Linked DNA regions of Homo sapiens: all the other regions are linked to region 1. Evidence: fine-mapped expression QTL. A gene starts in region 1. Each other region holds a variant in brackets. All regions are shown on one strand. Distances are between the middles of the regions. Region 1 holds the start of PAPSS1 (3'-phosphoadenosine 5'-phosphosulfate synthase 1). Region 2 holds the start of LOC105377358 (a long non-coding RNA gene). Region 3 has its middle 30 kb from the start of PAPSS1. Region 4 overlaps PAPSS1 (3'-phosphoadenosine 5'-phosphosulfate synthase 1).

Evidence for each region. PIP is the estimated chance that this variant, and not a neighbour inherited with it, causes the effect. A credible set is the group of variants that fine-mapping cannot tell apart.
Region 2: its variant is the best candidate, but not a certain one, in a credible set for the expression of PAPSS1 in unexposed skin (GTEx, PIP 0.62).
Region 3: its variant is the best candidate, but not a certain one, in a credible set for the expression of PAPSS1 in regulatory T cells (Bossini-Castillo 2019, PIP 0.87).
Region 4: its variant is the best candidate, but not a certain one, in a credible set for the expression of PAPSS1 in whole blood (TOPMed, PIP 0.85).

What each region holds. Positions count from the first base shown.
Region 1 is chr4:107,717,407-107,726,181 of GRCh38, forward strand. It overlaps PAPSS1 (3'-phosphoadenosine 5'-phosphosulfate synthase 1), which reads right to left and starts at 2,828. Exons shown (of 12, transcript NM_005443.5): 1 at 2,714-2,828. The coding sequence starts at 2,773. RefSeq lists enhancers at 2,081-2,140, 4,131-4,280 and a silencer at 2,771-3,020.
Region 2 is chr4:107,588,797-107,597,571 of GRCh38, forward strand. It overlaps LOC105377358 (a long non-coding RNA gene), which reads right to left and starts at 1,601. Exons shown (of 3, transcript XR_939059.3): 1 at 1,533-1,601. The variant T/A (reference allele first, on the strand shown) is at 3,819.
Region 3 is chr4:107,746,305-107,755,079 of GRCh38, forward strand. No RefSeq gene overlaps it. Among named protein-coding and RNA genes, the nearest start is that of PAPSS1, 30 kb to the left of the region's middle. The variant C/T (reference allele first, on the strand shown) is at 4,263.
Region 4 is chr4:107,685,352-107,690,351 of GRCh38, forward strand. It overlaps PAPSS1 (3'-phosphoadenosine 5'-phosphosulfate synthase 1), which reads right to left. Exons shown (of 12, transcript NM_005443.5): 4 at 1,688-1,826. Among named protein-coding and RNA genes, the nearest start is that of PAPSS1, 32 kb to the right of the region's middle. The variant A/C (reference allele first, on the strand shown) is at 3,121.

The DNA of each region.
Region 1 (8,775 bases):
TTGTAATAGAGGATGATAACAGTAAGAGCTAACTCTAATTGTCACAATATCCCTGTGAGGCTATCATTCTCATTTTATAGATAAGCACATAGAGGCATAGAGAAATTAAGTGACCAACCAAAAGTTACATAGTTAATAAATAGTGGAGTCCAGATTTCAGCCCAGGCAGTCAGCTCCAGGGTCCTGCTTTTAACCACTGTCTCTCATAATATTCACCCTCAGAAATGTAACAAAAACTCAATGGGCTAATATAGGTAAAACATTTCAAACTGTTCCTGGCACACACTAAACTCTCCTTTGTGTTTAACTAATATCACCCTTACCCCCGTGCCCAACCTACTTCCCAATTTCCACACAGGTAACAACCTTTCTCCCCACTTCCCAGACCAAAACTTCAGGATCATCTTCTAACATTCCTCCCTTTTTCATCCCCTAAATCTAGTCGGTCCTCTCAACTCTTCCTTAAATGTTTTTAATGCAGCTACTCCTCTAGTCCCACTGCCACCTTACCCCAGCCCTTCAGCCCCTCACACTGGATGAATTAACAAGAACATAAATAGTGCTCATGTGCCAGGCAGGCTTCAAATCTATTAATTCATTTAAACCTTACTATAACCTTGTCTGGTCTCCAGGGCTTCCCCATCTGGGTCCTACCAGGGTCTACATTTCTTCAGCGGAACATTCTTCCTGGATTACCAATTTTATCCTGTGATAGGAATTTTAAAGGTATATGGGTTCTTCACACTTGTGCCTATTAAGATGATTTAAATATGAGAGAGGAAGAGATGACGGGTGTTCCATGAGGGAGAGAAAAATTTACAAGGATCAGAAAATTTAAAATTCTAGCCCCATCAAAAATCCCCCATAGAATCAAGTCTTCTCTGCAGCCAAACACAAGAGCATCACGGAGCCCCAGCCTCCCTATTGAACCTTACCTCCACTTCCCAACAAAAACTCTCCAGGGCAGTCAAACAAGTTTCGTCAATGTTTCTGGAGTAAAAAAAATAGTAATTTTTATTCCCAACACTTATCCATGCAGTTCCCCTCTGACTCAGAAATCTGAAATCCTCCATAAACCCTCCCAAAACGCCCAGGCGAAACTAATCTCTCCTCTAAATTGCAATAAAACTTCTGTCTTACGCCACTCACTCTGGACCACAAAGACATATTCACCACTTGGCAAATGTCACAACCCCAACACAAACCATGAACTACCAGAAGGCAAGCAGTAAGTCCCACATTTTTCACCACCATGTCTAGCACAAGTCTCTACATAGAATACGCACCATGTGGCAAATGTTAATAAATAAATGAGTACATAAATGGACAATGTAACAGAAATCATCTGTAAATACCCCAAGTAAGCCAACCTTATTTCCCTAACCGTGAAACACCTTAAGGTAAGAGAAGCGAAACTGAGTCTGAGTTTCAAGGCAGTGGTTTCACCGCACATTCAAATTCATGATCTGTCTTCTTTGTTCATCAAAACAATCCCGTGAAGTACATACTATTATACCCTTAAGTCAACTGAGGTTCGAAAAAGTAAAGTGACTCTCCTCAAGATCACACAGCTAGTAAATGGCAAAGCTGGGATGAGAGACCAGGCCAGGAGTCCAGCGCTCTTTCCACTGTTCTAATTCATCTTTTAAATCTCCTTCCCCTCCTTACCATCTATAGAGTTAAATAAAAGGAGAGAGGAATCAGTAAACAACTCATGATAACAATAACAACAGATGTGGTAAATTAATGACTTCCAAAGAACATTTGCCTGAAATTGCTTGTTTTTTTTTTCTTTGATTCATCTAGGGCAAGTAACGTTTTGGGAGACATTGCATTTAAACCTTATTATTCCATTGGACTGTGAAATAACGTTTCCGTCTAAACTTAAACCAGTGCCTTTCCAGACTCCAAAGATGGGCCCTTCCCTGCTGCACACTTACAAAGGAAGATAAGGCTCTTTCTCATCACAGAGAAATTAAGGAAGTAAGCAACGTTATGAGGACACAGCACTTTACAAAGTCAACTGGCAGTCATTACTAAACGTTATAAAGGACTGGTCCCATACCTGACTGTCACCAGGAATGGAGTCTTCCAAACTCCTACTTGTTAAACATTCCGATTTAACACAGAGACACAAAGAACCTCAGTTCAGGGCAGTCTCAACTCATGAATGACCACATTGTTGGGTACTCTCCTTTCACACTGAAACTCAGAAATGGAAAGACACGGAGATGGACCCAAACCTGGGCCAACCGCACTGGCAGAGCCAAGAAAAACCAAGAACGCGTCGAAGGCGCCCGCCTCCGCCTTCTCTGCACATCTTCAGGCCACTCCAAGGTATGCAGGAAGCTCCTGTTTCTGCAGCCGCAGGTTTCAGCACCCGGAGGTTTCAGCAAGCGCCAGTTCACGGGTGAAGGATTTTCCTGGGGGTCTTACCTGAGCGGAGGCGCTGGGGAGGGGGGGCGTTCTTCCCACGAACGGTGGCTCGGACCGCACGCTGCGCCAAGCTAGGGCGAGATCCCCACCCTGCGCCGCGCCCCTCTGCCTCGCAACCACCCACGGCCCCAGCCGGGAGGCGCCGCAGCCCCGGAACCCACCTCCGCGCTCCTGGAAGGATGGATGCGGAGGAGGCGGGAGAGAGGCGGCGGCTCCGGAACGAGCTGCTCCCACAGCCCCTCCGCTCCTCGCCGTCTCGCCTTCGTCCCCAGCTTACCCAGTTCTGCGCGTTATTGCTCAGTTTGACTTTCTTGCACAGGCTCCCGGGGATCTCCATGACCGCGGAGCGCGCTGAGCAGCCGGGGTTCTCTGCGCCGGGAGGGTAGCAAGAGGAGGGCAGGCCAGCGAGCGGGGCGGGGCTGGAGGGCGGGGCCTCCTCGCGTCGGAGCGGGCGCGCGCTGACTTAAGCACGCGCCCGTGCTCGTGGCCTGGGTTGCGCGGCGCATGCGGCGCGCCTCGGAAATGGGTCCGGGGCAGAGGTCTGTGGGGAAGGGCGAAACGCCGGGATAGAACCGGAGGTAGAAGCTGGGGGCGGAGCTTCAGCGCTCGCGCCGGCGCGGGCGCGCACGGCGCTCCTCCTTCCAGATCCCGATGAAGGGGCGGGGCCTGGAATGCAGTCGTGGAACCTCAGGTGCCTCTGCGGCACCGAGCCTAGCTCTGAGCTAACGCAGATCTCTAAGAGCGAGTACCAGCCGCCGGGAGAAAGGCAAGGGGAGTGCGCGGCTCGCCGCGCGCGGCACTCCCTCAGCAGAGGCTGATTGGGAGGACGCTGACGCGGCCTCTTGCACCTGTGGCTACTCCTCCACAGACCTGGCTGCCGACCTCCTGTCTGCCCCTTCTGTGCCCATGTCACCCTGGCCAAATGTTTTAAATGTTTTACAGCTTTGCAAAGGGAAGAATTGATTTACCGAACAGCTCATTCTCCACATTAAAATTCTACTCAAGACACAATTTTTTTTCTTTTTTTGAGACGGAGTCTTGCTCTGTCGCCCAGGCTGGAGTGCAGTAGTAGGATCTCGGCTCACCGCAACCTCTGCCTCCCGGGTTCAAGCGATTCTCCTGCCTCAGCCTCCCGAGTAGCTGGGACTACAGGCGTGTGCCACCACGCCCGGCTAATTTTTGTATTTTTAGTAGAGACGGGGTTTCACTATGTTGGCCAGGCTGGTCTCGAATTCCTGACCTCATGATCCGCCCGCCTCAGCTTCCCAAAGTGCTGGGATTCCAGGCGTGAGCGACAGCGCCTGGCCTCAAGACACAGTTTTTAAAAAGATATAATAAAAGCCCGATTTCTTGACATCAATAATTAATATCTCAACCTGGATTAGTGATTACTTATAAGGTGCCTCCCTCTCCGCTAGGAGACCCCACTTCGCATCAGATTTCTGTGCAGTGCTTCTTACCGACCTACACCGGAAAGGGGCTTCTGTATTATTAAGAGCTACTCAGGAAATACCTAGAGGACTGAAATCCAGGACCGGGGAGGCCGCAGGTAACCCCGAATAGAACTCCCGCCTACGGAGGACATTTTCAAATTCACCTAATTATTCCAGGGCTAGTTCGTAGGAGGATGGGCTGGGGGCATGACAGAGTTTCCTCCAGGAGTTATCTTCCCCACACCCCCCATAACTCTGAGTTCTCTTTTCCGCAGCTTGCCCCTGGCACCAAAAGAGTTGCTTGCAGCTCTGCCCCCCTGTGACACAGCCGCCCTCCGCCCCTGACCCCGCCCATCACCAAGACCTGAGACTGCTGCCTGTTAGTGACTAGCAAATTAGCCCCCATCACCAAGACCTGAGGCTGCTGCTGCTGCCTGTTAGTGACTAGCAAATCAGCCCCCATCACCAAGACCTGAGGCTGCTGCCTGTTAGTGACTAGCAAATCAGCCCTCCATCTATTTGCCCCACTGCTACTGTCTTAAATTAGGCCTCCCCTATATCCAGCCTGAGTTATCATTAAGCCCGTTCACTGGACATCCTCCCAGCTGTGCAGCCGCTCTCCACATCCCCGCCACACACCCCATTCTTGCACCTGCTGTCAGAGCGGTATTTCTGAAACAGAAATCTGATCTTGTTACTTGACTACTTAAAATGTGAATGGTTCCCTTCAGCTTTTTTTCTAGGGAATTTTCAATCTGGGGTTCATACATAGAACTGAATTTCAATATAATTTCAAATTCTGCCAATAACAGGAATGAGCTTGGAAGAAGATCTCAAGCTTCATATGAGAAAATAGGGCCACATCTGAAGTTAGCCATTGCTCTGAGTTCTGGTTCTTATTAGAGGGAAATGGTATTTAGATATAACGATCTGGCTCTAGGAGTGCTCACTGCTGTGAGTTTGACCTTATTTCTAGTAAAAGACTTTTTTTAAGGTAAAATATATCATAAGTTTACATTGATACTGTCCATCCAAATTCATGATTCCAGATATGGGTCATGCAAATGAGCCAGAAACATCAAACAGGAAACATAACAAAAAACTGTCAAAAGCTACTCGGATTATGTCAAAAGGACTCAGAAACCAATTTAAAGAAATTTTTCCATGTCAAAGATGGGAGAATTAAAGCACTAAATGGACTAGAACTACAAAATATTAAAACATATCAAATATGTTTAAATCTAGGTGTTTGTAATGATGATGATTTTAAAAAAAATTATTGTCACTCTTAGAGAATGCTAGGAAACCAACTCATTATTTTGAAAACTGGTAAATAAAGGGGATGAATTAAGCATTTACTCTGCTTTCCCTGGACTGTCTGGGACCCAAAAAATTGATAAAGAGAAGTTTCTCTTTACAGAAGTACCACTAATAAATAAAGAAGAAATGATATCATTTTAATATCACCACTTTTCATTTTCTACTGAAATAATGGATAAAGACAATGATCCTCTGTATTAGTCAGGGTTCCCTTAGAGGGACAGAACTAATAGGATATATACATATGAATGGGAGTTTATTAAGTATTAACTTACACAATCACAAGGTCCTACAATAGGCTGCCTGCAAGCTGAGGAGCAAGGAGAGCCAGTCTAAGTCCCAAAACTGAACAACTTGGAGTCCGATGTTCAAGGGCAGGAAGCATCCAGCACAAGAGAAAGATGTAGGCTGGGAGGCTAGGCCTATCTTGCCTCTTCACGTTTTTCTGCCTGCTTTATATTCCCTGTTAGCGGTTTAGGTGGTGCCAACTCAATTAAGGGTGGATCTGCCTTCCCCAGCCCACTGACTCAAATGTTAATCTCCTTGGGTAACAACCTGACAATGATCAATATTGCATCTTTCAATCCAATCAAGTTGACCCTCAGTATTAACCATCACAAGTCCACCCCTTGACAACTTGAACCCATACACATCTCCTGAGATCATTCATAATCTTCAAATAAGACAATAATAAGGTCATAATTATGTCTAACATAACTGAACTGTCCTTTGTACAACTGGAAATGCAGTCCCCAACTCACATACTATTACATAAAGTTAACAATACTTAAATGCTGATATGAAGTCAGTGAATCTCATATCACATGATAAAGGAAAAGGAAATAAAATGAAGATATTTTCTTAGTACAAGTGTATGCATGCACAAACATGTTTTTAACAAAAGAAGGAGGAAATTCTCATGACAATCACAGTCCTCGTTTCTGCAGCTGGTCATGTGCTCATAGCTGGTATTGATGACTACCTTTTTCTACTACCCATTCTGTATTCCCTTTGCCTTCAGCAAGTACCTGAACAGGTGGTGGTTTTTTTTTCCTGGTGGAGTGACCCAAACCTTCATTCCTGAAGGGTCTGGGCCATTTGTAGTCCTGCCTGGATTGGGCTGTTGTAGTTTCCCATTGACCTTAATCACAGGGTAATACTAAGAGACGAACTAATGGATCTCCTGTGTTCCATGTGTACTCTTTCTTACCTCCACTGTGGAGTAGTAGACTGATTGATTTCATCTTGATAGTCTGGGTCAGTCACCCCAGCTAACATTGTAACTCCCTTCTTAGTCTGTTAACTTAGAGGTAGGAGGAGCCCAAAGTGTCCAGGTGGCAATCTTAACTTATAGTTTAATGGAATTGTTTTGTCTCCTGGTGGCAGCGTTTCTCCCTCTGGAACTAAGACCTCTAGACCAGCAGAATGTAATGCCATAGAAACAGGAAGCAAAAATGTTGCTAGTGGATCACTAGGGGTGATGGTGAGTGGTGCCACTTCCACTTCCACCCCTTGATTCCTGGACCCGTGATTCCTGGCTACGGGAGAAACAGTACCATATATTGGATGCTGATTCAGAGCCTACACGGTCTTCTGGAAATCTTTGCCCCAGCCCTGCAAACTATTGTCACCTAGTCGGCATTGTAGTTGTGATTTCAAAAGGTCGTTCCACTGTTCTGTCAACCCGGCTGCTTCAGGATGATGGGGAACATGGTAAGACCAGTGAATTCCATGAGCATGAACCCACTGCCACACTTCTTTAGTGGTAAAGTGAATGCCTTGGTCAGAGGCAAAGCTGTGTGGAATACCATAATGGTGGATAAGGCATTCCGTGAGTCCACGGATGGTAGTCTTGGCAGAAACATTGCATGCAGGATAGGCAAACCCATATCCAGAGTAAATGTCTATTCCAGTGAGGACAAACCTCTGCCCTTTCCATGATGCAAGAGGTCCAATATAATCAACCTGCCACCAGGTAGCTGGCTGATCTCCTGAGGAATGGTGTCATATTGCGGGCTCAGTGTTGGTCTCTGCTGCTGGCAAATTGGGCACTCATTGGTGGCCATAGCCAGGTCAGCCTTCATGAGTGGAAGTCCATGTTGCTGATCCCATGCATAACCTCCATCCCTGCCATCATGGCCACTTTGTTCATGGGCCCATTGGGCAATGACAGGGGTGGCTGGGGAAAGAGGCTGAGTGCTGTTAACAGAATGGTTCATCCTATCCCCTTGATTATTAAAATCCTCCTCCACTGAGGTCACCCGTTGGTGAGCACTCACATGGGATATAAGTATCTTCACAGTTTTTGACCACTCAGAGAGGTCCATCCACATACCTCTTCCCCAAATGTCTTTGTCACCAATTTTCCAATCATGCTTCTTACAAGTCCCTGGCCATTAAGCCAAACCAGTGGCTACAGCCCATGAATCAGTGTATTATTGCACATCTGGCCATTTCTCCTTCCATGCAAAGTGCACAGCCAGGTGCGCTGCTCGAAGTTCCGCCCATTGGGAAGATTTCCCTTCATTGCTGTCCTTCAGGGATGTCCTAGGAAGGGGCTGTAGTGCTGCAGCTATCCACTTTCGGGTGGTGCCTACATATCATGTAGAACCATCTATGAACCAGGCCCTGATTTTCTCTTCCTCTGTCAACTGATCATAGGGAACGCCCCATGAGGCCATCAGTGCAGGCTGGGGGACAGAAGGCAGGGTGGCAGGAATGGGGACCATGGGCATTTGAGCCACTTCCTCATGTAACTTACTTGCGCCTTCAGGACCTGCTCAAGCCCTATGACAAATATACCACTTCCATTTGCTGATGGAATGCTGCTGTGCATGACTCACTTTATGGCCAGATGGGTCAGAAAGCACACAGTTCATGATAGGCAGTTGAGGTCACATAATGACTTGATGACCCATAGTCAAACATTCAGTTTCCACCAAAGCCCAGTAACAGGCCACAAGCTGTCTCTCAAAAGGAGAGTAGTTATCTGGAGAATATGTCAGGGCTTTGCTCCACAATCCTAGAGGCCTCCACTGTGATTCACCTATGAGACCTACCAATGGCCCCAAACAGCCTCTGTATCTGCCACTGCTATCTCAAGCACCATTGGACCTGCTGGGTCATATGGCCCAAGTGGCAGAGCAGCTTGCATAGCAGCCTGGACCTGTTGCAGAGCCTTCTCCTGTTCTGGACGCCACTGAAAACTGGCAGCCTTTCGGGTCACTTGATAAATGGGACAGAGTAACACACCCAAATAAGGAATGTATTTCCTCCGAAATCCAAATAGGCCCGTTAGGTGTTGTGCCTCTTTCTTGGTAGTAGGAGGGGCCAAATGCAGCAACTTATCCTTCACCTTAGAAGGAACATCTCGACAGTCCCCACACCACTGGACCCCTAGAAATTTTACTGAGGTAGAAGATCCCTGAATTTTAGTTGGATTTATTTCCCATCCTGTGGCACACAAATGTCTCACCAATAAGTCCAGTGTGTTTGTTACTTCTTGCTCACTTGATCCATTCAGCATAATGTCATCAATGTAATGGACCAGTGTGATATCTTGCAGAAGCAAAAAGCAATCAAGATC
Region 2 (8,775 bases), 130 kb before region 1:
TGAAAAACAAAACAAGGATCAGCAATATTCCAAGCAAAAGTCAAAAGATTGTTTCAGTTTTCTGAGTTCAGTCAATTTAGTTCTTGTTTTGCTTGATATTCATAAATATTCAGCTCTTCATGAGTCCTGTACATTTTTCCTGTACTCAAATATCACAATTTACATAGTTATCAGAAACCTGTATTTAAACACACTTAGCTATAACTTATAGAACTTCAGAGTTCTATAGCTTATTATAAACAATATTTTGAAAAGGATTAAAACAAGACAATTGTCTATGAATAACAAAATGTCCAGGGTAGTTACAGTTAGAAACAAAATTAATAAAGAAGTTTAGTTATCTCTGTGGTTTACAAAAACTTAACATAACAACTTCAATTATGATTGATAGCATATACTCAGATATTAGAATTTTAGAAACCCCAGACAATTTTGGAACACATATTAGTATTATTCAACAAAATATAGCCTAAAGAAGACTGAACACCATTTTGGCAATCCCATGTAATGAAACATGTCAAATAATCTTGTTTATCTCTTTTCTGTGTACTCCAGGGGCCCTTCTGAAGCATCTGAAAAGTCAGGTGTCAGGAAAGACAATTTTGAAACTGAAGTTTGATTTTAAGAAGCCTGTTAAATATGTTAGAGGTTTAAAACATTTGATGTTATGAAACAGAATTCCAGATTACATAAATTATTTATTTTACCAAAATTATGACTCAGAAACTTTAAAAAAGCAAAAACCTTTTATAACCCTTTACAAATTTTGGTAAAGAGCAGTTGAGTGCCTTAAGAGTACCTTGTGTGCTTATTTTAATGCTCAATTTACAGAAAAACTATATAATACCCTTTGAATTTAGTCAGTATGTTCACACATGGAATTTTTGCAAGATTAACTTTTACAATCCTCCCATCACTTGTTTGAACTTTTAACTTCATCCTACTTAATTTAAAACAATTATTTAACCCTAGGCAAGAATTTACACTTTTAAGCCTTCTTATAACCTTTTATTAAAAACACATTTTACTGTTCTCACACACCTTGCATGTAAATCTATTTCCCGTAGTCTCAATTATATGTCATAATGGTAACTTTTAGCAATTTTTAACTTTAATGTAAAACCTGGTACGTTGTTTTGATTATATGCTACATGCAGCCAAGGCTTGACCCCTTCCAGCATAATTAAGGGTGTGGCTAGTTCCATATGTCCCCAGGCCTTACCTTCTTATTCTTATGTAAATATTCCTCCACCAGGGAGAAAAGCTTAATTGCTGGGGACAAAGCTGGACTCCCTGGCCAAGGACTGGGAGACTCCCTGGCCAAGGACTGGGAGACTCCATGGTGCATGGCAGGGAATGCCAGCCAGCCGTGTGGGGTGCCTTAAGGCCCTGGCAGCAGTTGTGGCTTATTGCTGCCCTGAGTAGCTGTTGAACACTGCACACACATGTGGCAGACATGGCCATGCACCCCAGGCAGCAGGGAAGGGGGAACAGGGAGCTGTCCCACCCAACCATCCCATGCATGCACCCACCTGTGGCTGCTGGGACGGGTGTGGACCACCTCCAGTATTGTAAAAGGAAAGATAGGTGCCATTACTCTCCTGAAAAAAAATAAGAGGAATGTCATAGGACCAAAAGGCTCAGAAGCAAAAGTAAAAGGTTTTGGGTCTCCATTTTACTCACCCTTCCTCAGGTCCCACATTCTGGGTACCAAAAACTATAAAGCAATAAATCCCCATTCTCCCCTTCCCCAAGACCCTGGAAACCAGCATTCTACTTTCTGTCTCTATGCATTTGCTTACTCTAGGTACCTCATATAAGTGAAACCATACAATATTTGTCTTTCTGTGATGGGCTTACTTCACTTACCGTACTGTTCACAAATTTCATACATATGGTGGCATGTATCCAAATTTCATTCCTTTTTAAGACAAATTAATATTCCACTGCATGTTTATACCAAACTTTATTCATTCATGTATCGGTGAGCGTTTGGGTATTTCTACTTTTAAGTTAAATTAAGTTTAGGCCTGAGGTTGCCTCTATACTTGAGTCCTTATGTGGCAAACTGCAACATTGGTAGACAGACTACTAATTGAAAGCTTAATTTAGGAGTACATAAACTCTTCTAACAACTGGCTGAGTTCTAGTCAATCACAGCAGCTGAGCTTCAGTCAATTGCAGGTGGCCCACTCATTCAAATAAGGCAAAACACTGAGCTGTAACCAACTAAGCTGACTGTGCATTACATCTGTTCTCCATCCATAAATGTTATCTGACCACTTTGGGGTCCCAGAGTTCTTAGAATCTATTCTGGTTCTGAGGGCTGCCCAATTCCAGAATTGTGAATCAAAGCTAATTAAGATATTTAAACTAAATTTATTGTAATTTTGTCTTTCGATACCACCTTTAGGCTACTGTGAATAATGCTGCTATGAACATTGGTGCAAAAGAATCTCTTTGAGTTCCTGCTTTCAATTTTTTCAGGTACATACTGAGAAATTGAATTTTGGTAATTCTAAGTTTAGCTTTTTGAGGAACCACTGTACTATTTTCTACAACTGCTGCTCCATGTTACATTCCCATGAGCTATGCACTAAGGTTTTAATTTCTCCACATCTTCACCAACACTTGTTATTTTGTTTTTTTTAAATAATAACCAACCTAATGAGTGTGATCATTTATTTTTATACATGTGCCAATTGTACTAATAGTCCTAATTATCTTTTAATAGAAAATTTAAAGGATGAGATAAAGATACAGTTTGAGTACACTTTATCCAAAATGCTCAAAATAGAAGTGTTTTGAATTTTAGATTTTTTTCAGATTTTGTAACATTTGCATACATATATGCAAATCTTGAGGATGAGACCCAAGCCTAAACACCAAATTCATTTATGTTTTATAGCAACCTTGTACACATAGCCTGAAGGTAATTTTATGCAATAGTTTAAATCATTTTGTGCATGAAACAAAGTTTTAACTGTTTTGACTGCAACACCTCACATGAGATCAGGTGTGGAATTTTCTACTTGTAGCATGATGTTTGCACTCAAAAAGTTTTGGATTTCAGGGCATTTCAGATTTTGTAGTTTTACATTAGGGATACTCAACCTATAAAATCCATATTTTTAAATAAATTCAATTTGTATGTATTGTTTCTCAAATATTATGTTTATCCTAAAAAATTAACATTAATATTAATGGTTTAGGTAAACACAAAGTAACATATAATACCTTGTTATATTCTAAAGCTTAGTTCAGCACTTTGTTATATCACTGAGTTTTAATGGCTATCATCTGAAAAAAGTTTATTATACATATATTTATATCCACATGGAAAAACTACGTTATTGGTTGTAAACCCTGAAGTTTATTTTTTTACTTGCATTCACCAATTTTCAATATTTTTGTTAAAATACATCTCGTAAATTTTTATCTCTATGATATCAGTCTGTTGTCTTATAAATAAATCAGAAAATATTGTATTTTCTTACTGTAGATTAAATATCCCTAATCTAAAAATCTACAAAGTTCAAAACTTTTTAAGCACTGGACATGATGTCATAAGTGGAAAATTCCACACCTGACTTAATGTGATGGGTCACAGTGGAAATGTAAGTGCACAGCACAGTTTACTCAGTGTCCCCAAGAAAAAAAGACCCTCTCAGCCCTCTTCAGCTGCAACATATTTTTTTCCATGCATGCCCACACTTCCCCATGCAAGCATGCCTGCAAAGGGTAATAAAATGCCACTTGTGCAGGGTGAATGCACCAATGGCAGATTCCCTGCAATGACCCACATGGACCAGGACCTA[T/A]GTGCATTACTCACTGTTTTTTTGCTTATTCTTTGCTCTCTGATGTAAAGATACTGTTGGACATGTCAAAAAGGCCTGCAGATACCCTATGATCATGGTAACAAGTGAAAGAGGAAGCATTTATGTTTATCTATAGCACAGAAAGATACACTGTTGGAGAAACTGGACAGCGGTGTACAAGTGAAACAGGAAGCATTTATGTTTATCTATAGCACAGAAAGATAAACTGTTGGAGAAAGGGGACAGCGGTGTAACTGTAAAATGTCTTACAGAAGAGCACAGTGTTGGAATGTCCAGTATTTATGACGTGAAGCAACAGACAAATAAACTGCTGAAGTTCTATGCCTAAAGTGATGAACAAAAATTAATGAAAATAGAAAAACACTGTGCAAAGCTAAAAATGAAAATATTGATTATGTATTGAAAGAATGGATCCACCAGTATTGCATTAAACACATGCATATAATGATATGCTGATCATAAAACAAGCAAAGATCTATCACGATGAACTGAAGAGAATTGTGAATATTCAACAGGCTGGTTGTAGAAATTTAAGAAAAAATGTTGCATTAAATTTTTTAAATATTTGTAGTGATAAAGCATCTGCTGAACATGAAACAACAGAGAAATTCATTGACAAGTTTGCCAAGGTCATCACCAAGGAAAATTTGACACCAGAACAAGTCTATAATGCTGATGAAACATCACTGTTTTGGCCTTATTGAGCCAGAAAGTCACTGACTGCAGATGATGAGACAGCCCCTACAGGAATCAAGGAGGCCAAGGACAGAAGAATATTTGCATACACTACTCTGTGTATGCAAGATATCTTGGAGATGGGACCCAAGTCCCATCTGTGCTGGGCTGTGCTAATGCTGCAGGCATGCATAAGTAAACCTGATGTGATAGGGAAAAGCTGTGTCCTTTCTGTTTCCAAGGAATGAATTTCTTACCAGTCCATTATTATGCTGACAAAAAGGCATAGATCACCAGGGTCATCTTTTCCGTTTGCTTTCACAAACATTTTGCACCAGCATCTTATGCTCAGAGCAGGGAAGCTAGACTGGGTGATGACTGCAAGATTTTGTTATTCCTTGACAACTGTTCTGCTCATCCTCCAGCTGAAGTTCTCATCAAAAATGCTTATGCCCTGTACTTTCCCCCAAAATGTGACTTCATTAATTGTGACCAGGGTATCCTTAGATCAATGAACAGTAAATATAAAAACACTCTACTGAACAGCATGCTACAGCAGTGAAAAGAGGCATGGATGTGGAAGATTTCAAAAGGAGTTTAGCATGATGGCTGCTGGATATGTTGTTACCAACCCTTGGAACACAGTGATTAATACATAGCTGTGCATGCCTGGCACAACCTCTGGTCTGTGACTCTGTTCAGTGAGGATGATAAAAAAGTTGGTGACTTTGAAGGATTCTATATATCAAGTGAGAAAAAATGATGTCTGACCTCCTTACATATTCAAAAAGATATACCTTCAGTGTTCATCAGTAAGCTAGAAGAAGTGGATATTGAAGAAGTTTTTAACATTGATAGAGTCTCCAGTTGTTCATTCATTGATCAATGGTAAAATAGCTGAAATGGTTCTGAATCAGGATGATCAGGATAAAAGTGACAATGAAGATGAAGTTGTTAACACTGAAGAAAAAGTGCCTGTGGACAATGCGGTGAAAATGTGATGGGGTTATTGAAAGACTAGAGCAGTGTGCATTAATAACAGAACAAGAGTCATGTCTATTTATAAAATCAAAGAGAGACTTTGAAGACAAATATCATTGTTAATGAATCAGAAGACTCTGGAGGAAACATTTTAAAAAGCCATCCATCAGGCCAGGAGTGGTGGCTCACAACTGTAATCCCAGCATTTTGGGAGGCCAAGGCAATTGGATCACCTGAGGCCAGGAGTTCGAGACCAGCCTGGACAACATGGTGAAACCCTGTCTCTACTGAAAATGCAAAAATTAGCCGGGTGTAGTGTCAGGTGCCTGTAGTTTCGGCTACTCGGGAGGCTGAGATAGGAGAATATCTTGAACCCAGGAGGCAGAGGTTGCAGTGAGCCGAGATCACACCATTGAACTCCAGCCTGGCGACAGAATAAGACTCTGTCTCAAAAAGAAGAAAAGCCATCCAGAAGAATGGCTCCTTATCCCTAGACAACCTACCACTTCCTGGTCTCTTAACTGCTTCTGATAAAAAAATAAAATACAGTTTGCACTAAGCTTTTAGTCAAAACACAACATCATCGGTGGAGACCGAAAGCCTGCTGCTGTTGGTGGTTGCTGATGTTTAACAGTTGATACAGGTTTTCTGGTGATGCTACTGTGCTGCTTAGTTACCCTGAACACATTATTTTTTCACTGCACTCATGGTATCTCATACTTTTTACTGTTAAGTACTTGCGTGTGAACAAGCATAAGAAAATGATTGCTTTTTAGTAGCACATAAATTCAGAGTCAGGAATGATGGTGATGCCAAACAGCATAGACTATTTACATGGGTGGCTGAGATTGTGACACTTTTGCTTTCTGATAGTACAATGTATACAAACTTGGTTTATGCACAAAAGTATGTAAAATATTGGATAAAATTACCTTCAGGCTATGTGTGCAGATGTATATAATCATAAATGAATTTCGTGTTTAGACTTGGATCCCATCTCCAAGATATCTCATTAAGTGTATGCATGTATTCCAAAATCCAAAATCCAGAACACTTCTATTCCCATGCATTTCAAATAAGGGATACTAAACTTGTATTATCAAACAGTTTGAAAACCCACTGTAACTCTTTATTTGAAATATGTTTTTAAATAGACAAAAAATTTACTTGTCAATTTTTTAAGTTTAGATATAAGAAAATTTGTATGGGACACATACACATTGTTTGGCAGTAAAATCATGGAACAATGGAAACATTTCCAAACATCCAATTTTAAAATGCTTTGTTCATAGCAGGAGTTTCTTTTGAAAAGCAATTACTTTTACATTCATTGTTAAAACATTACTTTAAACTTAGGGGATGAATTAAGTGTGTTTATATTTTCAAAAAAGGTCTGGTGGGTAGCATACTATTGACAGACACTTGTCATCACAGAAAAGAACAGAAAATCTGGAACACTTGTCTTTTCATTTTAAAAAGATGCAAATTATACATCTCTAAGTTAATTATTCAGTACTTTGCCATGATAAATGCAGAGAAAATTTTATGGTAATAAAGATTTTCACAATCTCTTCCCATCTCATTGCAACATCTACTCTTTTATTTAATTTTTGTAAAACTAAGTGCACCCACACAGTCTGTATCAGAAAGAGGGCAATACATCAGGATAGGATGTTGTAAATGAATGAGTGGAGTGGGGCACTGTCAAGCCCACTGCTTGGTGTGATTCCCAGTTGTAATAAAGCAAATGACCATAAAATATCTCCTTCCTTCTATCCTTTGCAATGTGACTTTGCAGCTCCTTTCGAAGAGAGAAATTACTTCCACTTCCCTTGAATCTGGGGTAGTCTTGTGCCTTGCTTTGGCCAACAGAGCATGGCAGAAGCACCACAGTGCCCGTTTCAAACCTGGCCCACTAGACTCTTTGCCTGCTTCTGCTCTTGCTTGTGGAACTCTGCCACCAGGTGATCAAGCATGGGCTTCTTACAAATACGAATCCCCAGGGCACTTCTCCAGAGATTCTGATTCATTGGGTCCAGGGATTTATACTTTTATCAAGCATCAGAAGTAATTCTGATTCAGGAGGTCTTCAGATAACACCTCAGAAAACACTGCAAATCTGGATTACGAAGTGGCCTCAACTCCAAGCATATTATCAGAATCAGAAAATACATATGAACTAGGGTCCACTCAGAGCAGCCTACACTCAGCGGTAAGGTTGCATCAGTGTATGCTCCTGGTGCATGTAGGGAGTATCCCACATTGTGACAATATTGATACAGCAATTAGAAGGAGGACCTCCAGAGAAGAGCAAAAGAAGTGCCCCTGGAGGTTTTCCTGTAGGTCAACTTTGCAGGATTCCTGAGCTTGACTTCAGCTCTGATTTTGTCTTTTACTAACTTCATGATCTTGTATAATTCCCCTAATCTCTCCAAGCTTTAGCCTTCCTATCTATGAAGTGGGAATTCTAACTGTGTCATAAGTTTATTGCAAGAAGAAAATGAGGTAAGTTGTAGAAAGCACTTAATACAGAACCTGGCATACAGAAGATGTTCAATTATTTATTATTCTTGTTTCATTATGATATTGTTATCCTTAGAAACCTACTCCTCTTAGGATGTGGAGAAATAGGAATGCTTTTACACTGTTGGTGGGAGTGTAAATTAGTTCAACCATTATGGCAGACAGTGTGGCGATTCCTCAAGGATCTAGAAGTAGAATTACCATTTGACCTGGCAATCCCATTACTGGGTATATATACCCAAAGGATTATAAATCATGCTACTATAAAGACACATGCACACGTATGTTTATTGCGGCACTATTCACAATAGCAAAGACTTGGAACCAACCCAAATGTTCATCAATGATAGACTGGATTAAGAAAATGTGGCACATATACACAATGGAATACTATGCAGCCAAAAAAAGGATGAGCTCATGTCCTTTGCAGGGACATGGATGAAGCTGGAAACCATCATTCTCAGCAAACTATCACAAGAACAGAAAACCAAACACCACATGTTCTTACTCATAGGTGGGAAATTAACAATGATATCACTTGGACACAGGGCGGGGAACATCACACACTGGGGCCTGTCAGGGGGTGGGGGGCTGGGAGAGGGATAGCATTAGGAGAAATACCTAATGTAAATGATGAGTTGATGGGTGCAGCAAACCAACATGGCACATGTATACCTATGTATCAAACCTGCATGTTGTGCACATGTACCCTAGAACTTAAAAGTATATTTAAAAAAAGTTGAGGTTTTCCCATTAA
Region 3 (8,775 bases), 29 kb after region 1:
TGGGAATTGATAGTTGAGCAAGGAGGTAGGGCTAGGATGATTCATATGCTAATGGATCTGAGTTAAAGATGTTGGTAGGAATTCATGTTTAGCTTAATACACAGATGATTTCGTCTAGAAATATTTTTACATATGTGTACATATGGAATTATTATATGCACATATATTTCTTTATCAGCTGAGACAGCTCAAAAGCAATGACACCCCAGTAGCAACAAGTACACCTAATGCCCAGATCTTGGTGTTTCTAATAAAATATCAGTTAGAAGCCACAGTGGCTTTTAATACCATTTCCAACAAAAGGAACCAGGGTTCCTTGGAGAAATGGCTGATTCTAGAACTAGGACAGAAAACATACAAGACGAGCCTGGGGCATGTTGTAGTGTCAGAAAGTAAGGAAGTACAAAAACAAACAAACAAAATACTACCATAATTGTATGAGCCTGTGAAAGGAGCACAGGCGCCAACTGAAAGAGCTCCCAATGGTCAAAGATGAAACAATTTGAGCAATAAAAATAAAGTAATACAGGATTACCACAAGTATAAAATAAAGTGAGTCCATACTGATATAAACAACTAAATAAATTAATAAATGGAAGAGACTAATATCCCATGCAGAAAAATTCCAACTAATTTATATAGATACTCTGCTCTCAAGGAAAGAAACATAAATCCTTACTTCTTAAATACGGGCTGTGCATATCTCCTTCCAAATAATACATAATAGAAACCAAGTGAAAAAGAGTAACTCTATTGTGAAGAAACCTGGCGAACACTCACTCAACAATATGATCAAAATCAACAGTAATAAATCACGTTGATAGTATGTAGCTTTGACACGATGTGATGAAATGACACTGCACCTTTGTAATCTTTCTCTCCAAAACCTATAACCCCAGTTGAGATATGAGAAAAATAGCAGATAGATAAATTCCAACAGTGGGATACAACAAAATACCTGGACAGTACTCCTCAAATCAGTTAAGGTCATCAAAAATAAAGAAAGGCTAAGAAACTGTCATAGCCAAGAGGAGACTAATGAGATATGACAAATAAACATAATGTCGTGTTCTAGATGGGATCCCGAAACAGAAAATGTAGGTAAAGCTAAGGAAATCTTGACAAACTTGATCTTTGTTAACAATAACGCATCAATATTAGTTCATTAAGTATAACAAATGTACCATACTAAGGTAAGATGTTAACAATTGGAAAAATTGGGTTTGGGGGTATGTATTAATTCTGTACTGTCTGCTTCATTTTTCTACAAATCTAAAATTGCCCCAAAAAAGACTATTTTTTTAAAAAAGAATCCTGGCAGCCCAATGCAAATATGCTTCTGTCTCATGTTAAATCCTCAAATGCTCAACATCCACTGAACCTTTTCAAACAACAACAGCTGGCAAATTCTGTTTACCTCTGGCATCTCAACTTCGTTAATGCCGCCTTACCAGTGATTGACATGGTGTTATATCAGTATTCTATTGCTTCTTCTCACTTCTGTGGACTTAAAATGAATTATCTGGGTGATATTACCTGCTCCCTCTTTCTAATAAATATCCTAGAGAGTGGTTGCATTTTGACTTCACCGTATACTCAGACTAGGGAGCATGCCAGCAGAACCTATCTCCTGGTTTTCCATTGTTCCCTAGATAGCTCTGTTTTGGTAATTAGTTAACATTGGCACAGTTCCAGCTTCATGGGTGTCCATGTGCTCTCTCTTTCCACTCATTGCCTCCTTCTTCTATTTAAGTTAATTAAATAATTACTTTTCTCATTATTTTCCGATAGTCATCCAGGGGAAATAACATGCTCAAAACTATAATTTTCAGCATATATTTCAGAGATCCTTTAAAGAAACATTCTCACCTAGAGCAATTTTTATTTTCTGCAGCTATTGACAAAAGCATTTCCTCCAGCAGTTGAAAAAGCTGCCTAACCAGCTGGTTTACCAGCATGACTTGTAGTTGGGTTTCCCAATAGAAGTCCCCACTGGGCTTGCACATTGGTGAAGGGACATGTAGTAGTGGCACTTCTCCCCGAGCTAAACAACTGAAGGAGTGTTTTCTCACTCTGAACAAGAGTGCATATACTCTTTTCCTGATGTTACGTACAGTTAGACTCTTTCCCATAATAAGAAATTGAGACAGGTTGTGTCAGTTAATGGAGTTTTATTCTAAAGATGGAGGGAAGAAAAGGGGAAAGGAGGTGTTTTCAGCAGCCACACAACCAGAAAATAGGCAGAGCACCCTAGGACTGCATATAATGGAAACTCAGTTACTCTTAGCTTCTGCTGCTATTTGTCTTACCCCTACCAACTAATTGACTGATTTTCTCAAATTCAAACTACTCAAAAGAGAAGATATAATTTGATCTGCCTATCACAATCCAATTTAAGCTACTCATGTTTTCTCCTTCTCCTCCTCATCCTCTTTCTTTCTCCATCCCTTTTGCTCAGCCTTCCTATAACCTCTAGTCCTTTTCTCTTTGGGGGCTCCAAAACACTGAGTAGGTCACAGTATCCTGAGTTTTTGTGATGTAGAGTCCTCAAAAACCCACACATTAATTTCAAGCAAGCCACTCAGAAACCCAGATGTTGCAATACTATTTGATAATGGTGAGAATCTTCCCCCTTTTAGAAAGATTTTGTGCTAGGCTTCCTTATCATTGCTGGCTGAGCTACGAATGGCTGCCTTTGGGTCAGGTGCTCAGTTGGGTCTTGTCACCTGGGACCAGGAGATGGGATCATGTCATTTAAAGTGCAACAACCAATTCACTAGGAAACACCCAGATAGAAGCCATGGGTCAGGAAGAAAATGAATCACATACTACTCTTTTCCATAATAGACCAGTGTTCCCAAAGTTCCTTCAGTGGAAACACCACTTCATTGGGAATGCAGTGTGCATTTTGTGAAAAAGGATCTTCTGATAAATTTCATTCCACAAATATTTATGAATGATTACTAAGTTCCAGGCACAGTTCTATACTCTTAAATATCTGAGGAACGCTGTGTTACACAAATTAAACAGATTTTTATGCTGCAAAACTCTTACCACTTTTAACATGCCAGTGAGCCCAAGTGAAGGGCTATAGATTGTACTATCTCTCAAATTTATAATACGAGTGCTCTTTTTCTGAAAAACATTTCTTAAGCCTCATATTACACAAAACATACATCTTGAGAGACACTTAAGTATACAGTTGAAGATCCAGGAAATCACACTGTCAAAGGACACATGTATTGTAGCTAGTCTCCACAGTTACCCCCTACCCCTGATGAACCACATATCCTGGTATTCATACTCCTATGTAGTCCTCACCTACTTTGAATCCAGGCTGAACTTGTGACGACTTACTTAGCCAACAGAATGCGGTAGAAGTGACTGTATGCCAGTTCCAGACTCAAGCTTCACAGCCTCTTAAGAAGTGTGGCTACCTTGCTGGAAAAACTGCATGAAGAGGCCACATGGAGAAAAAGAGGTTCTCAGACTATTTGGAAAAGACCAAGGAACCCACCCTGCAGGAAGAACCGAAGTCCCAGATATATGACCCTGTTGAGCATTAGCCAGATGCCATCATTCATGCCATCCTAGATGAAGTGACAGACATGGGAGTAAAGAAGCCTTCTTGGATGTCCCAGTCCCAGTAGCTATCAAGCAAATCCAAGATGAGCCCTCTCTGTATGTCCAAGCCAAATGCCCAATGCACAAAATTGTGTGAGATGATAAAATGCTTGTTGTTTTAAGCCACTAAGTTTTGAAGTAGTTTATTAGGCAGCAATAGTTAAAAAAATATTAACTATTCTGGAAAAATTACTACATAAACAATGTATTGCACCAAGATTACATTTATAAACACATATGTCTATTTCAGAAATGACCCATTTTAGAGGAAATACTTTAAATATCATTTATTTATAGAGACTTAAATAATTTCATGGTTTATTATAATAATTTTCATTCATTTACTTTTGTACCTCTTTATCAGTAAAAATTAAAAATCAAATAAAAGTTATAAAATATTTAATCACAGAGAAACCAATTTAATTGTACATATTTCTTGCAGTAAACAAATTAAAATGCTTGCATACAATAAGAAACTAAGAAAAAATTGGATTGAACTTGAGACACGCATTTGTTTATAAGAGGCTAATCTAATTAAAAGCACATCTGTTTGTTTATGCTGCAAGAAATCTCAATAGCAATTAGGAAATTATAAATTCCTAACATAAAAACTAGCCCTAATTTTAGTCAGAGGACAC[C/T]ATCCTGTTATTTATAAGCTTGGGGGTACTAATTATTTACCGTGCAGAAGGTAAAATGCACTAGTGAAACACAGTACTCCTTCTCCTTCTCCTCCTCCTCTTCCTCCTCTTCTCTTCTCCTTCTCCTCCTCATCCTCTTCCTTTCTCCTTCTCTTTTGCTCAACCTTCCCATAACTTCTAGTCCTTTTCTCCTTCGATGTCCAAAATACCGAGTAGGTTATAATATCCTGCGTTTTTGTGATGCAGAGTCCTGAAAAAAAACCCACACATTCATTTCAAGCAAGCCACTCAGAAGCCCAGATGTTGCATTACTATGTTATAATGGTGAGAATCTTCCCCATTTTAGAACTCACCCTTTTCTAGGCTGAGCAGCCTAGTAGCATAAGATGCACAGGATCCTAAATCACAGTTCTTCTGTCCTTACATTAAAGCTGCATTCTTCTTGGTTAACATTACTAGGCATGACTTTCTGATATTTACACAAATTATTTCATACAGATGTTTTAGTATATGCAAATGACTAAGCAGAGTTGTTTAATAAGAATTTAAATATTTAAGACTAAGTTTTCATTTTGGAATTACAGTAACACATTTCAAGAGAATACAAAAAGATGCACTAAATAACATTATGTCCAATAAAGCACAAAGTTAATAATGTTGTTTAAGGAAAAACTGGAAGAAAGAGGGCATTTTTTTCCTATTTCTTTCAACCAAGTGTTTGGAGGCTATCATAGGGTTGTCTACTTTGTTTTGTGTTTCTTTTTAACATGTTGGCTTCAATTCTTCAGTTTTGACCTTTTGATCTGTCTTTCATCTGACAATTCCAGGACAAATGCTGGAGTATAACACATATTTAATGGAAGTATTATAATTCAGGCAGACTGGCATCTCTCTGGTTCCTATAAGAATTTATTTCTATCAAGCAACAGTAGTACTCTATGTTACCTCATTGGTTAGCATACAGTGCCTAGTGTTAACTTTCCTTTACCTTCTAATCATAAATTAGATTCTACTATGCTAATCTTAAGAGCAACCGTTGTATTAAAGGAAACAGATCACTATAATTCAATCTAAATTTACTTAGAAGTAATTATTTCATTAAAGGTACTATACCTGAATAGATCAAGAAACTGCTCTCTAGTTGTGTTTCTGCATAAATAATAAACTGACTGAGACATGAAAGAGTACCCTGAAGAAACTATAGATATGAGTACGGTGACTCACTGGTTTGAAGAACAGAAAGTTTCTCTGTGATGCTCCACAATGTTTTCCTTTCTTCTAGTTTTTTTTACGTTAACTTTGTGATTTGTTGGACATAATGTGTGTATACAATCTGCCCTCTGCAAACTGGAAAGTTACAAAAGCCCTTGGTGTAAATATTTAGCCTTAATCCAAAGGCTTGGGAACTGGGAGAGCTGACAGTGAAACTCCCAATCAAGTTTGAAAGCCTGAAAACCAGGATAGACCATTAGTGTAAGTTCTGAGTCTGGAGGCCCAATAACTGGAAGCTCTGATGTCCAAAGGCAGGACAAGATGAATCCACTAGCTCAAGAAGAGAGAGTGAGGACAGGCACAGTGGCTCACATCTGTAATTCCAGCACTTTGGGAGGCCAAGGTGGGAGGGTTGCTTGAGGCCAGGAGTTCAAGACCAATATAGCAAGACCTCGAGCTCTACAAAAAATAAAATTAGCTGGATGTGGTGGCATATGCCTATGGTCCCAGCTACTCAGGAGGCTGAGGCAGGAAGATCACTACAGGTTGAAGCTGTGGTGAGCCATGATCATGCCACTGCCTTCCAACCTGAGAGAGAGAGGGAGACCTGACCTTCTCTGGGGGGAAAAGAAGAAGTAGAGAGAGAGGGAGTGAATTAATCCTTCCTCCATCTTTTTGTTTTACTGAGCTCTGTAAGGATTAGACAATGCCCACCCACATGGGTGAAGGTGTGTCTTCTTTTTCCCAGTCCACCAATTCAAATGCTAATCTCTTCCAGAAACTTCCTCACAGACACACTGAGAAATAATGTCTTACCAGCTATGTGGGCATCTCTTAGCCTGGTCAAGTTGACAGTAAAATTAACCATGACAGGAGTAAACCTAGATAAAGCAAAAACTACAGAAAAACATATGCAAATATGTTTTACCTCTCATCAAATCCTAAAAAAATGATATTTTATCTAAAGAGAAAGAACCCAAGATGGATAAAATCTTTGATATGTTAATTCCATTTTTACTTTGTGTCTATGCATGGAGGAGTATGGGGGTATAGGTATACACAATACATACTTATGTACATACTTGTATAAAAATAAGACCAAGTTATTTTTTCACTTGGACATCAAGGTAGAGATACTATAGATGTCTGTTAAAACAGAATTTGGGGGGAAAATCTGCACTGATTACTCTTTAACCAATCAAACTAGTCAGGACTCCTTTGGTCACAAGTGAGTGAAACAATTCAAATGCAATTAAGACGAAAGTGTCTTTATAGGCATAAAGAACTGAAAAGTTTAGATGTAGTACAAACTTCTAACACAGCTGGTTTGAATGCTCAGAAGACATGAGGATTGTTTCTATGAATCCCTCAGCTCTCCGTCCATCTGTGTCAGCTTTACTCTGGAAAAAGTTTTTAATGAGGAATATCAGTTTGGCCCGCAGCTGTTCCAGGCTGCCATCCTAGACTAAAAACTTCAGCAGAAAGACAGGAACCAGAGAGATGCAGGTCTGTCATGCTAGGAGGTGTCCAGGGACTGCATCTTATCTTTCTGTCCTTGACAATAAACCCACCTATTCTAGAACTTATCACAAGGCTGGGGTGAGGGCAGTGTATGGAATGTTCTGACTGGCCAGACTAAGCCACAGGTCTTCTGGAACTTGGGGAGGGGCTGCACAGTAGGAGATGTTATTCCCACACAAATGATAAGAAAAGATGGAAAATGGAATAATTCACTAAGGAAAGTTGGAAGTTCTTCTACCAATATTGGGAGGGATAAATACTTGACAAATAGCACCTTCATATTAACCTGCTTAATTTCTTTCTTAGAAGGGTATACAATAGGATGGGGTGGGAAGATTCAGTTATTTGTACTTGATAGTTATTTGAATTCTAGAGAAGGGAGAGTTTATTCAGTTAAAAAAAAAGTAGATTCAAGAAAAGTTTAAGGACTGTGGAAAAGATAACTAGCTCTCAGGGACAGTAGCAAAGAGCAACTGGCCAAAAAATCATACTACTGAAGTTTTACAGTTGATTTCCTTTGCCTTTTCTGACCTAGCATCACCTTTTGAGCACCCTTTCCACATCTAGGCAACTTTCTGCCTTTTAATCCACCTCCACATGGTAGAAGCCAGAAAGCTCACTTTGCCACACTCACTTGCGGCGAAGCTACAGGCATATAACCTAGGCTACCCCAATCACACACACCCATGTGAGACATCATCCCAGAAATGAGCTACATGGCAAGGCAGGAGCTGAAGGAAATCCACATTTTGGCATAGGTAGCTGCTGAGATGTCATCTCTCAAGGTCAGAATGACAGAATTCCTGATGTTTCATATCCAGAGTGAGTGGTGTATGCTTTAGTGTCCAGTTGCATCAGAGCCTTTACTGCCACAATCTCACAATGTGGTTAGAGCATTGTTTCTGACTGCATAGCCTCCAAACCCAACTCTTTAACCCTCCAAAGACTCTCTGAGCTATCTAATATTCCTTAAGAAATATCCTTTTTCTGCTTAAACTAGCAAGAATCTTAATTTGTAAACAAAGACCCTAATTGAAACAGTGACTGTATCAAATTTCTAGGGCTGCCATTACAAACTACCACAGAGTAAGTGGCTTAAACAACAGAAATTTATTTTCTCATAGGTATGGAGGCTAGAAGTTAGAGATCAAGGAGTCTTCAGGGTTGGTTTCTTCTGAGGCCCCTCTCCTTGTCCAGGTGGCCATGTTCTCCCTGTGTCCTCACATGGTTTTCCCTCTGCAGCCATCTGTGTCCAAATTTCCACTTCTTATAGGGACGCTAGTCATATTGGATTAGGACTCACTCTAATTACCTCTTTAAAAACGCTGTCTCCAAATACAGTCACATTTTGAGGTACTGGAGGATTAAGACTTCAACATATAAATCTGGCAGAGACACAGATCAGCTTGTAACAGTGACCATAACTGTACCAGAGATAACAAAGAGGACCAAGATTTGCAGAGAAGAAATTTACCGTTGCTATCAAAGAAGTTAATGTACATACTCTACAAATGAAAGAGGAGTATTAAAATATTTATATTGGAAAGACAAATTTATGTACTGAAATTTACCACAAGTATAGCATGGTGTAAAAGAGAAAACTGAGCAATCGTTAGATGAGTTTACCAGTGCAGACACTAGATCCTAATAATAAAATTGGGTCAAAATTATTTGGATAGTTGACTAAACTTTATATTGAATGTTATACAGTGACCCCAACCTAAATTCTGTACTTACTGTAGGAATAAGTATAGCCCTCCTAGATTAAGAACACGGACAT
Region 4 (5,000 bases), 34 kb before region 1:
GACAAACCTTCCTCCCTCACCAATCCATTCTTTCAAAAACAACAAAATCAACTAAAATTAAAGTAAGTAAAAGGTTTAGACTTTATTTAGGATCCTGGACACACCATTTTGCTTTTCTGTGCCAAATTTCTACACAAAGACTGAAGTGAAAACTGGCCATTGAGAGAGTAATATGGGAGCTGAAGGGCTAAACAGGTTTTCCTCCAATTGTCATAATTATTCTGGTTAAGCAGCCTGATCTTTCTGAGTCAAGAAAGTAACAGCTTAATGAGGTAGAGGGTTGACAGGCAGCAGTCCCCATCAAGGAGCTGATTCTCCATAGTGGCATTACCGGAGGTCAGCCTTGCCCATGGAACTAATGCTACTACAGCAGATGGAACCTGACCTAATTGCCAAAGCATTCCCAGGTTCAAATACAGAAGAACCCAGAATAACTACCATTTTCCTTCCCACTGTATCTTTTTGTTTTCAGGGCCAGAAACTGAATGCCAAAATCTATCTCTGAGAGAGCTCCTGGGAGTTTCTGTGACAGTCTCAGGTTATCACATTCCCTGCTGGGAAGGCAAACTTAAAAGTTACCTGCATGACTCACTGATCCCTAAACAATGGTATCTTTAGTTAGTTTTTTTGTTTGTTTTGTTTCGTTTTGTTTTTGTTTTGTTTTTGCCAGCAAGTCCTTTGTTTCTGTTAACAATAATGGAACAGGACAAGTCAAGGGATGTCTACAAGATAAATAGTATGATTAATATCAAAGGCCAGAGCAGAGTTGGGTTCTAAATTTCTCCCTCAATGTCTAAATGTCCATCACAGTTGAAACTCTGGGAAGCGGACCATAAAACCTAAAAAGCAAGGTGTAGAGCTGTCCCTTGGTAATCATGCGGATTTGTTCCCGGACTCCCTGTGAACACCAAAATGTGAGGATGTGCAAGTCCCTTACATAAAATGGTGTACTATTTGCATATAACCTATGTTCATTCTTTTATATACTTTAAATCATCTCTAGATTACTTATAATACCTAGTACAATGTAAATGTTATATAAATAGATGTTATACTATATTTGTTATTTATACTATTTTTAAATTGCTGTATTATTTTATACTGTTTCTTCTGGAATATATGCAATTCACGGTTGGTTGAAACCACACATGTGGAATGCACAGATGTGGAGGGTCAGCTGTATATATTTTAACAGAATCAGTGATATGTTAATTCAATCTAATTCAACAATAGTACATGAAATGAATAAGGGACCATTCCAAGGATCGTAATAAAGTACAAGGCATTATCCTTATCATCAAGATGCTTATAATTCAGGCATTTTTTCCAATAGCTATGGGATTTCCTCCATTTTCCCTGGAACAAAGAAAGTAGAATTGGTGGCAGCAGGCAACTGATGTCCAACTTAATGTTAGGCACCTAATTTTATCAAGTAGGTTTTCGCCAACTCCCGAGCCCCAACTCTGGCTAGTGAACAGGATTCCAAAAGGATCAACAAGACTCATTTAGTCCAGCACCAGGCACTGCTGCTATGCCTGAGAGATAGAACAGTGTAATAAGACTACATTCTCTCCTCAAGGAGCTCCAAGTCACTCTAACACTTCCAATCTCTTAGAAAATATCAATCCTAGATATGGGAACATAAAATATCTAAGCAAAGTGAAACTGGGAAGAAAATATTACTGACCTTTAATTTCTCCTGCCCGGGCTTTTTTGTAGAGTCCTTTGACATCCCTCTGTTCACAAACATGCAGAGGAGCATCAACAAATACTTCAAAAAACGGTAAACTTGCACCTTCATGAATTTGCCTTGCATTGTTGCGATCCTTAAAAAAAAATAAAATAAAAAGTGATCACACAAATCACAAACGTACTATATTAATATTAAAGATGAGTAAAAAGTGCTTCTCATCCAATTTAGTGGGAAATAGACAAAATTTATGTTTTTAAATATAAACTGAAAAAAAAATCCAAGAAATTATTAGGTTAATTCCTATTATTCATGACAATTTTAAAAGGCATACTGTTCTACTAACCCAGGATATTGGGGAGGTACAGAAGGAAAACAATGAATGTACCACAAACTTTTTCACTCAAATTCTACGTGGATCCTGAGCCAAAGCCCAGCCTGAATGCTGGTGTCATCAGGCTTCTCTCTAATATCACATTCAAACCCAGCCTGAGCTGGCATGAAAGCAATTTCACAAAAAAGATCCATTCAGAATCCTGAGGCTAGTTTACTTCTTTGCCAAATGCAAGCCCCCTGCAGCCACTTCTCCTCTCTAACACTCCCCAAACTTAACTTTTCTGCTCCTAACTCCCAACTCTCTAGTAACCACCCTTGCAGCTCCCTCTAAGCCCTCTCCACTCTGTCCTTTGGAACAATGTTTCCTTTGTAAATCAACCTTTTCTTCTTTCTGGTCTTCAAAACCTGATTCTCCCTTTGCTCCACATTTATACTCCATTAATCAAAGTGCAGTTGCCAATATTTTCAAAGCTGGTCCCTGCAATTTCTACCATCCTTTTTCCACACAGCTCATTTTAGCATTTGCCATCTTCCTTATGGTCCCTCTGACAATCCTCACCTACTTCCACTCTCACCAGATTACCATACTTCATGTTTCAAAAAAAAAAAAAAAACAAATCTCCAAGAATAAGCTCTCAATCTCTTCTCTTTCAAGCAAAATCTCTTCTCTGTCATACAAATTTATCTACATACTAATGATCCTTTTCTCCCTGCCACTCCTACCTTCACATACTAGGAATTCCCTCCCCTTTCATGAACTCCTACAGGACCTGTTCAACCCATTCTCTCTACTCCACCTGAAATCTTCAGCATTCCCCCTTTGCTGGGTTCCCTGCTCCCCAGCAACAAACAAGTACAAGTCCATTTAAAACAAATGAACTGCTAAGGGAAGTTCACCCATTTAAAACAAAACAACTGCTAAGGGCAGTGGTGTAGCACGCTTATAGTCCCAGCTACTTGGGGAGGCTGAGGCAGGAGAATCACTTGAGCCCAGGGGTTCCAGGCTGTAACACACTACAATTGTGCCTGTGAATAGTCACTACACTCCAGGCTGAGTGACAGAGTGAGATCTTGTCTCTAAAAAAATTTTCAGC[A/C]TAATGAACTAACAAATCATATAAAAACTTTCCCTTAACCATAGGTCCTTTTCAGTATTTAAAATACCAGGCCTCTTTGCTGCTTTCCCACTGCTATGCCTATGGATGCCTATAATGTTATTCCCTGATCTTTCCTAGGCAGACTCCTCCTGGGCTCCTCCTATTTCACCCATCCCTTAACACTGGAGTTGCCCACACTCCCATCACAGCCCACTGCTCACCTTACACAGTTCTTGAGCGTTTCTCTCAAGTGCCTTCACAGTATAAACTACAACACATACATCAACACTGAAGCTTGAACCCTGACCTCTGTCCTGAAATTAAACACACATGTCCAAATTCTTCCTATGTCCACCTGGATATATCACAGGTGCCAAAAACTAAGCATGTCCAAAACTAAATCCAGTCCCTTTTCTCTCAAGTTTACATTCTCTCATATGCTTCCCAAATCAAGGAAGACCACACTACACACCCACAATCCTAAGAGTGGTTCCTTCCCTTTCCCATACATTAATTCAGTCACAAAGTCCTTCAGATGTTACTTCTAAATATTACACCAACCCAGTTTGCAATCTTTCCCTATTCCCTAGTTCAACCTCACTTCTCTTGTCTGAACGGCCTCAACATATTACAGGTCTTCTGGCTTCTAACTCGGATCTGCTCAAAGCCATAATCTACACTGTGGCAAAGGATGCAAATCTGACCATCCTACTGAACTCTTCAGAGACTCTCTGCCACTACTGGGGTAAAATCCGAGTTTCTTAATGTGAGGCATCAGCCCTATACCTGGCCCCACCATTCTCAGTCTTGCACTTGATGCTCTATTGATAATACCTGCCTGGTCAGGCTGTTTCTACCTTAGGCCTCCCCACGCCACAACCCAACCCCTACCAGCAACACTCAACCCCTCTCTTCTGGACAAACCAATGTGCTTCCTCACAGCACATCTCCATGGTGACCTCCTCCAGGAAGCCTTCCCTGCATGCTCAGGCTGATGAGGCCCCTTGCTTTCTCAGGGTTCTCAGAATACTCACTACATATGATCATAGATCTTTTTCCAGTATATTAAAATCATCTCATCAGCTTTACAAGTTTAGTGTCTGGAATAGCAATTAAGCTATGATCTTACTATTCTAACTATCCTTTTAAAGGAAAGTGTCAATGAGTTTCTATCCCTGTCTCTCATCTTATTACTCTTCTGTATCTAATCGTCCTCATCTAGGTTTCAACTAATAAAGTTAATGATTCCTAAATCTAGATCTCAATCCCATACAACTTTCCTAAACTCTAAAACCAATTTCCTAGATGGCCCAGTGGTAATCTCCACTTAGACTAACTCCACTAGCACTTCAAACATAACCCACCAAAAATGAAATACGCATGTCCTCCCCTCCTATCCTGTACTTCATAACTCAGTCATACCAACCTTTATTCAGAAAGCACCATGCTTCATTCTGCTCTCCCATAAAATCAGCAATCAAGCAGGCACCAGGTCTTACTGATGCTACTCAAGCCTCAAGAGCCCTTAAATATGCCCCCATCTTTACTAGTCCCATTGCTGCTGCTTGAGTTCACATCCTCTTCCCTGAAGGAGCTGGTGCTACGGCAAGCCTCCTGGCTAGTCTCCTACCTCCAGACCAGTCTCAATCCAGGCTTCAAGGATGACCTCACTCAAATGCAAACCCAATGATACCAATCTCTGTTATAATCTCAAACTATTAACTCCTTTTGGGGCAAAATCCTTTCTGAGCAGTGCAGAAGTCACCACCTAGCCTCTGCAAATTGATCAGCTCCATCTCCCCTCACAATCATCCTTCATATCAGTCACACCAACCTACCTACAGTTCCCCAAAAAAACAAACTGTCTCACATTCCATTGA